2 linked regions of the Homo sapiens genome follow. The protein of the gene in region 1 purifies or fractionates together with the protein of each later gene. This does not show direct contact. Each region holds a gene or a part of one and is shown in the gene's direction. Other genes may lie near its edges.

The links.
Region 2: the proteins of ODAM (region 1) and NISCH purify together in Homo sapiens (affinity purification with mass spectrometry; one large-scale study listed by BioGRID and IntAct). This does not show direct contact.

The regions. Positions count from the first base shown.
Region 1 is NC_000004.12:70,201,901-70,205,076, forward strand, and holds the end of ODAM (odontogenic ameloblast-associated protein isoform 1 precursor), read left to right. Parts: intron 1-357; coding exon 358-429; intron 430-855; coding exon 856-1,017; intron 1,018-1,255; coding exon 1,256-1,285; 3' UTR 1,286-1,314; exon of another isoform or gene 1,315-1,315; intron 1,316-2,274; 3' UTR 2,275-2,676; downstream 2,677-3,176. UniProt on the Homo sapiens protein: Tooth-associated epithelia protein that probably plays a role in odontogenesis, the complex process that results in the initiation and generation of the tooth. May be incorporated in the enamel matrix at the end of mineralization process.
Region 2 is NC_000003.12:52,490,086-52,493,568, forward strand, and holds the end of NISCH (nischarin), read left to right. Parts: coding exon 1-146; intron 147-619; coding exon 620-748; intron 749-1,266; coding exon 1,267-1,428; intron 1,429-1,786; coding exon 1,787-2,397; 3' UTR 2,398-2,983; downstream 2,984-3,483. UniProt on the Homo sapiens protein: Acts either as the functional imidazoline-1 receptor (I1R) candidate or as a membrane-associated mediator of the I1R signaling.

The DNA.
Region 1 (3,176 bases):
TGTGAGAACACCTGGTATTTTCGTAACTTGTATGGTGACCTTACTTCAGACAAAATTTTGAAATTGTCTTGTTTTTTCCACCCCTTCTGATGTTGGTGTTCTGTAGAATTCTTTATGCTCAACAGGTAAGTACCTGGTCCTAGTAGAGAATGTTAGAAAGTAGCACTTTCAGAACAGAAGCAGAGGCGAGATGTCAAGCCAGTTCTCTAATAGCAAAAATTAAACTATTATTTCTGTTTTTAGCAAAATAATTTAAGAAGTTTGGGAGTGTTTTACTACTCTGGTACTCTGGGTGGCCAAAGAGCATATTTTCAACGATCACTGATTTAGACTTTTTAAAACTTTTTGTGTTTTTAGGCTATATCAGGAGGACAGCAGCAACTAGCTTTTGATCCCCAACTAGGCACAGCTCCTGAAATTGCTGTGATGGTAAGATTCCTTACAACACTTTGCCAGCTACTGGAAATCAACAATTGACAACTTACTGCACTAATGTTCATTTTAATATCAACTCTGTTGTAATTCCATCAATAATTTTTGCTTCTTCTTCTTCTTACAATATTTTGCCAGTAAAGATTCAGTTCACTCTTACTCAGTTCATCAGTATTTTTAAGTATGCTATGCCAGGTACTCTTTGATGCACCTTTATTTAAAAGCAGATATTAAGAGACAATGTTTGCTGGTATATATTCATGGTCTTTTATGTAGCTTATAATCTAAAAATACTAATAATAGCAACTCTTTTTTTAATATAATGCTTTTGTTACATCTCAATCCTGTTGCTTTACATTCTTCCCAATTTTGGCCTTCTTGTTGAACTTACGACAACTTTGTTTTCATTCTCATTCTCTGTAGTCAACAGGAGAAGAGATACCATATTTACAAAAAGAAGCGATCAACTTTAGACATGACAGTGCAGGAGTTTTCATGCCCTCAACTTCACCAAAACCCAGCACAACCAATGTTTTCACTTCTGCTGTAGACCAAACTATTACCCCAGAGCTCCCAGAAGAGAAGGTAGAGTCATGAAAACTTCACTTTATGCAAAAAAATTGTCTAATGAAAAAATACAGTGATAAAATTAGTGCTTTAATTTATAGGACTTAGTCATGAAATTAAGAAGATAACTAATGAAAAATATGTGGTCTTAACTCTGAATAAGGTGGCCAAAACTTGTTTTTGATAATCAATTAATCAGAATATAATTTAATTTCAATTTAATAACAGTTTCTTATGAATGTCCTTTTCTCACTAGGACAAGACTGACAGCCTAAGGGAACCATAAGAAGTTGCCCTGATCATTCAGACATTTTGGTAGGTATTTGCCAAAGTCAAGAATTAGGTGCCACGACAATTCCTACATAAGAAGACAAAAGAAAAAAGTTGGCAGAGGAGCTAATGGAGTTCTTACCAAAGTAGTTATAAAAACAAGTTAGCTATATATACCTATAAAATTAATAATAATTATGGACTTCAACAATTTTTAAAAACAAAATTAAATTTTGAGAATCATGTCTGCCTATAAGTTTGGTATACTCTCTGAAAACACAAATACTAGATATTCTAGGTCCATTGTAAAAGACATTCTATAGACACTCCATACAGAATCAATTCTCCCAAATCATCATTTCATTTTGCAAGTAAACATTGTAATAATTCCAATATATCTGTATTAGTTTGAAATTAAGTAAAAATCTCAAAATGATAAAGAAATTGTACAATGAAAAGAAAATTTCAAATTCCATGACTTTTATATCAGACATAATCTTGAACTAATTACCTGTTTTAATCAGCTTGGTTGGCTATGAGGCCACAATAGGAGTTTGATAGAAGGGCAGTCTGGGAACAGCACCAAAAAGTAAAAACACACACTGAAAAGCAAACAATTTAACTTGAAGGGCAAACTAAAAGACAAAGTTTTTGAAATCTCCTCCCTGCTGCCTGTGAGCCTCTTTTGATCTCTCCTTCCATAAAAATGAGCACGCAGCATTCTTCAGATGAAAAAAGTTTATAAAAACACAACCAAGTGAACAGTAATAATACCTCTTTAGGAAAGCCTCCTTACTAATGTACTATATTGTACAAGGCAAATCAAGTTATTCAGTAAGAAATACTAAAGAGATTTCAGTATTTTTATGACCTTTTTTCTGTATGTATGAATGCCAGTGAAAGAAAAGCTTTCTATTTCTTTAATAAGCAATTTGTAAGATATCTAGGATGTTTTATGCAAAGCAGTCCAATGATATTAAAATGCTTTTCTATTATATTTTTCAGGGAAAAAGATGTGGCCATGCCTTGGATATAATTTTAGGCTATTAGCTTCCTCAATACTAGTATCAGTTCTTTGGAATACATGAAATATCTTGACTCTTCTCCTAAATTTGTTTTTACTTATACATGTTATTAAACTCTTTAAATATGTCATAGAAAATAATACAATCATGTAATGAGTCTTGTCTTACAAAATTATATGTCTCTTCAAATATCCTATCATTGTATAATATGGAATATAATAACACAGAATAAAGCTAGTATCATTAAATCAATTGGATAATTGCATTAGTAAATGATGCCTCTGCAAAATGGTAGTACCCATGAAGATATGTATATTGTCATTGGATGTATGATGAGTGTTGTGATTGGAACTGATGAAGTAAAATAAGTATCTAGATTTGACATGTCATCTCTTCATTTCCCTAAGGTCCATTTAGTCAGTTTCCTCCTGAGACATTCTCATGACAATCAAAATTATTTGGTGGCAGATATCATAAAGTGCTTATTCCTAATATGACACAGTCACATAGAGAGGTGTCTGTCCTTACTCAAAAGGATAGGAAAGTGTATGCTTGTTTGGGGGAGGCAGCATCCTGTAGAGAATAAGGTGGAGATTTTGGGTTTCATCAGATCTGGCTTTCAATCTAGAATAATTTCTCTAAAATCAGCTTTGCTTACATTTGGTAATTCTCAAAACTTTCCCTACCAACTATTCTCCACTGGATGTTTCCTATCTAAATAAAACAGCATTAGTTCAAGAATAAAATATAGACTAACACAGGAACAGAAAACCAAACACCACGTGTTCTCACTCATAAGTGGGAGTTGAATAATGAGAACACATGGACACAGGGAGGGGAACATCACACACAGGGGCCTGTTGGGGGTGGGAAGCAAGGAGA
Region 2 (3,483 bases), on another chromosome or scaffold:
GGAGCTGAGGCACCTCATGTGGTCCTCGGTGGTGTTCTACCAGACCCCAGGGCTGGAGGTGACTGCCTGCGTGCTGCTCTCCACCAAGGCTGTGTACTTTGTGCTCCACGACGGCCTCCGCCGCTACTTCTCAGAGCCACTGCAGGGTAGGCACAGGGCCTGCTGGGGCTCAGGAGCTTGGAGTGTGTGGTTGGGGCAGGCCTGGGGGGTCATTCTCTGGAGCCAGCTGTGTGGCTTCAGGCAGCAGTCAGCGACTTGGCTGCAGTGGGCTGAGAGTTCCTTGTCTGAGGAAGGGAGCTGTCATGAGGGAGGGGTCCATGGCCAGATGTGAACGCAGAATGCACTGAGCCAGGGCCTGGTGACTGCTTGGGAACAGCCAGTGATGAGAAGGGGTTAGGCAGCCTTTGCCCCTGGGGCTGCACAGGAAGCCCTAGCCAGCGACCTGGTGACTCCCCTGAGCTGGAAGAGGCTCCGACTCCAGAGGGCATTGCCTATGGGGCTTTGCACGGGTGGAAGCCAGGCCAGCCAAGAGGACCTGTTCCTGCTGGATGTGCTGCACACCTAGGAACCTTGTGCTTGCCTGCCACCGCCTCCCTCTGTCCCTTTCTCCATCACACAGATTTCTGGCATCAGAAAAACACCGACTACAACAACAGCCCTTTCCACATCTCCCAGTGCTTCGTGCTAAAGCTTAGTGACCTGCAGTCAGTCAATGTGGGGCTTTTCGACCAGCATTTCCGGCTGACGGGTGGGTGACCCTCTGTGCTTTGTCCTATTTCGGGTGAAGGCCAGCATCACCAGTGGGCTTCCACCTTCCGTACGTGGGTGGGTTATCATAGACAGTTATCTCTGTGCTCAAGAGCCACTTCTTAACCGGGGTGGGAGGAAGCAGCTTCAGGAACTGCTGAGAGAGCAGAACTCACGCTCCAGGGCTCAGAGCAGGAGGTAGGGTGTGCGGCAAGCGCTGGCCCGGACAGAAGCAGAGTGGGCCCTGGTCTCGGGCAGGATGTTTCTGACTCACATTTCCTGAGGAGAGAAAGCTAAGCTCTTTGCCTAATGTCTCTGTCTCCCCTTCCAGAAAAATGCCTCAGCTCTTCCGGCCTGAAGGAATGGCCTCCTCCCGGGCCCCATGATTCTTTCCTGTGTGGGCCCTCCTGGCCCTGGCCTCTGGGCTGAGGCTTGCTAGGGACTCGGGGTGGCTCTAAGGGGCAGGGATAGGGCTGGGGAGCGCCGGCCTGTGGCCCTGACCAGCCCCTTCTCGTGCAGGTTCCACCCCGATGCAGGTGGTCACGTGCTTGACGCGGGACAGCTACCTGACGCACTGCTTCCTCCAGCACCTCATGGTCGTGCTGTCCTCTCTGGAACGCACGCCCTCGCCGGAGCCTGTTGACAAGGACTTCTACTCCGAGTTTGGGAACAAGACCACAGGTACCCCTGTCTAGCTCAGGCTGCAGACAGGCTGCCTGGACAGACGTCATGGGCCCCAGGGTGGCTCTCTGTGCCCCAGAACCCTCTCTGCCTCTATGTCTCTCTTTTCTCACTTAGCTGGCCAGGGTTTTATGTGGGGCTTTTCGATGGCAGAGTCTCCACTCCAGCAGTCCCTCAACCATCTGGCAGACACATCTCCAGTGCCTGCTTTGGGCTCCTGGCCTGTGGGCCCCACACTTGGAGCATCCTCTCCTGCCTGTCTCATGCCGGGGTCTCTCGGTTGGCTTGGGGCCCTTGGTGCTCCCAGCCCCACCAGGGGCCGGTTCCAGGCTATAGCCCAGGTGGCATCTCTCTGCAGGGAAGATGGAGAACTACGAGCTGATCCACTCTAGTCGCGTCAAGTTTACCTACCCCAGTGAGGAGGAGATTGGGGACCTGACGTTCACTGTGGCCCAAAAGATGGCTGAGCCAGAGAAGGCCCCAGCCCTCAGCATCCTGCTGTACGTGCAGGCCTTCCAGGTGGGCATGCCACCCCCTGGGTGCTGCAGGGGCCCCCTGCGCCCCAAGACACTCCTGCTCACCAGCTCCGAGATCTTCCTCCTGGATGAGGACTGTGTCCACTACCCACTGCCCGAGTTTGCCAAAGAGCCGCCGCAGAGAGACAGGTACCGGCTGGACGATGGCCGCCGCGTCCGGGACCTGGACCGAGTGCTCATGGGCTACCAGACCTACCCGCAGGCCCTCACCCTCGTCTTCGATGACGTGCAAGGTCATGACCTCATGGGCAGTGTCACCCTGGACCACTTTGGGGAGGTGCCAGGTGGCCCGGCTAGAGCCAGCCAGGGCCGTGAAGTCCAGTGGCAGGTGTTTGTCCCCAGTGCTGAGAGCAGAGAGAAGCTCATCTCGCTGTTGGCTCGCCAGTGGGAGGCCCTGTGTGGCCGTGAGCTGCCTGTCGAGCTCACCGGCTAGCCCAGGCCACAGCCAGCCTGTCGTGTCCAGCCTGACGCCTACTGGGGCAGGGCAGCAGGCTTTTGTGTTCTCTAAAAATGTTTTATCCTCCCTTTGGTACCTTAATTTGACTGTCCTCGCAGAGAATGTGAACATGTGTGTGTGTTGTGTTAATTCTTTCTCATGTTGGGAGTGAGAATGCCGGGCCCCTCAGGGCTGTCGGTGTGCTGTCAGCCTCCCACAGGTGGTACAGCCGTGCACACCAGTGTCGTGTCTGCTGTTGTGGGACCGTTGTTAACACGTGACACTGTGGGTCTGACTTTCTCTTCTACACGTCCTTTCCTGAAGTGTCGAGTCCAGTCCTTTGTTGCTGTTGCTGTTGCTGTTGCTGTTGCTGTTGCTGTTGGCATCTTGCTGCTAATCCTGAGGCTGGTAGCAGAATGCACATTGGAAGCTCCCACCCCATATTGTTCTTCAAAGTGGAGGTCTCCCCTGATCCAGACAAGTGGGAGAGCCCGTGGGGGCAGGGGACCTGGAGCTGCCAGCACCAAGCGTGATTCCTGCTGCCTGTATTCTCTATTCCAATAAAGCAGAGTTTGACACCGTCTGCATCTTCTAAACCAAGGGTCACTGGGATCCCAGCAGGGCTTCCGTCCAGGGCGTGGTCACATGGGGGAGGGAGGGTGCCCTGGAGACAGGAGGGTGAGGGGTTGGGGGAAAGGAAGGAGCAGCCCTCCAGGAGCCAGATGCTTCTTGGAACATGGGAGGCATGACAGGGCCATGGCCTCTCTGGACAGTGCCATGCTGGGCTGTGGCTAAACCATGAGCGCAGGGCAAACAAGAAACTCCTCAGGGCACCCCTGACACACCAGCCGCTGCCCCTCTGCCTGGGTGCGGGGCATGCCACCCTCTTCAGGCTGTCCTGCAGGTCTTATGTGTCAGTCACCCCTGGGCCCAACCCCACCTGTTTCACAACCCCTGTTGAGAGTGGGGGAGGGGCGAGGAGGACAGAGAGATCCCAGAGTCTGAGGTGGCTGGTGGGGGCCGGGGCATCTCACCAAGGTGGCCCTTGAATGGCAGCAGGGGAGGTCTGTGGGGAGGTGGACC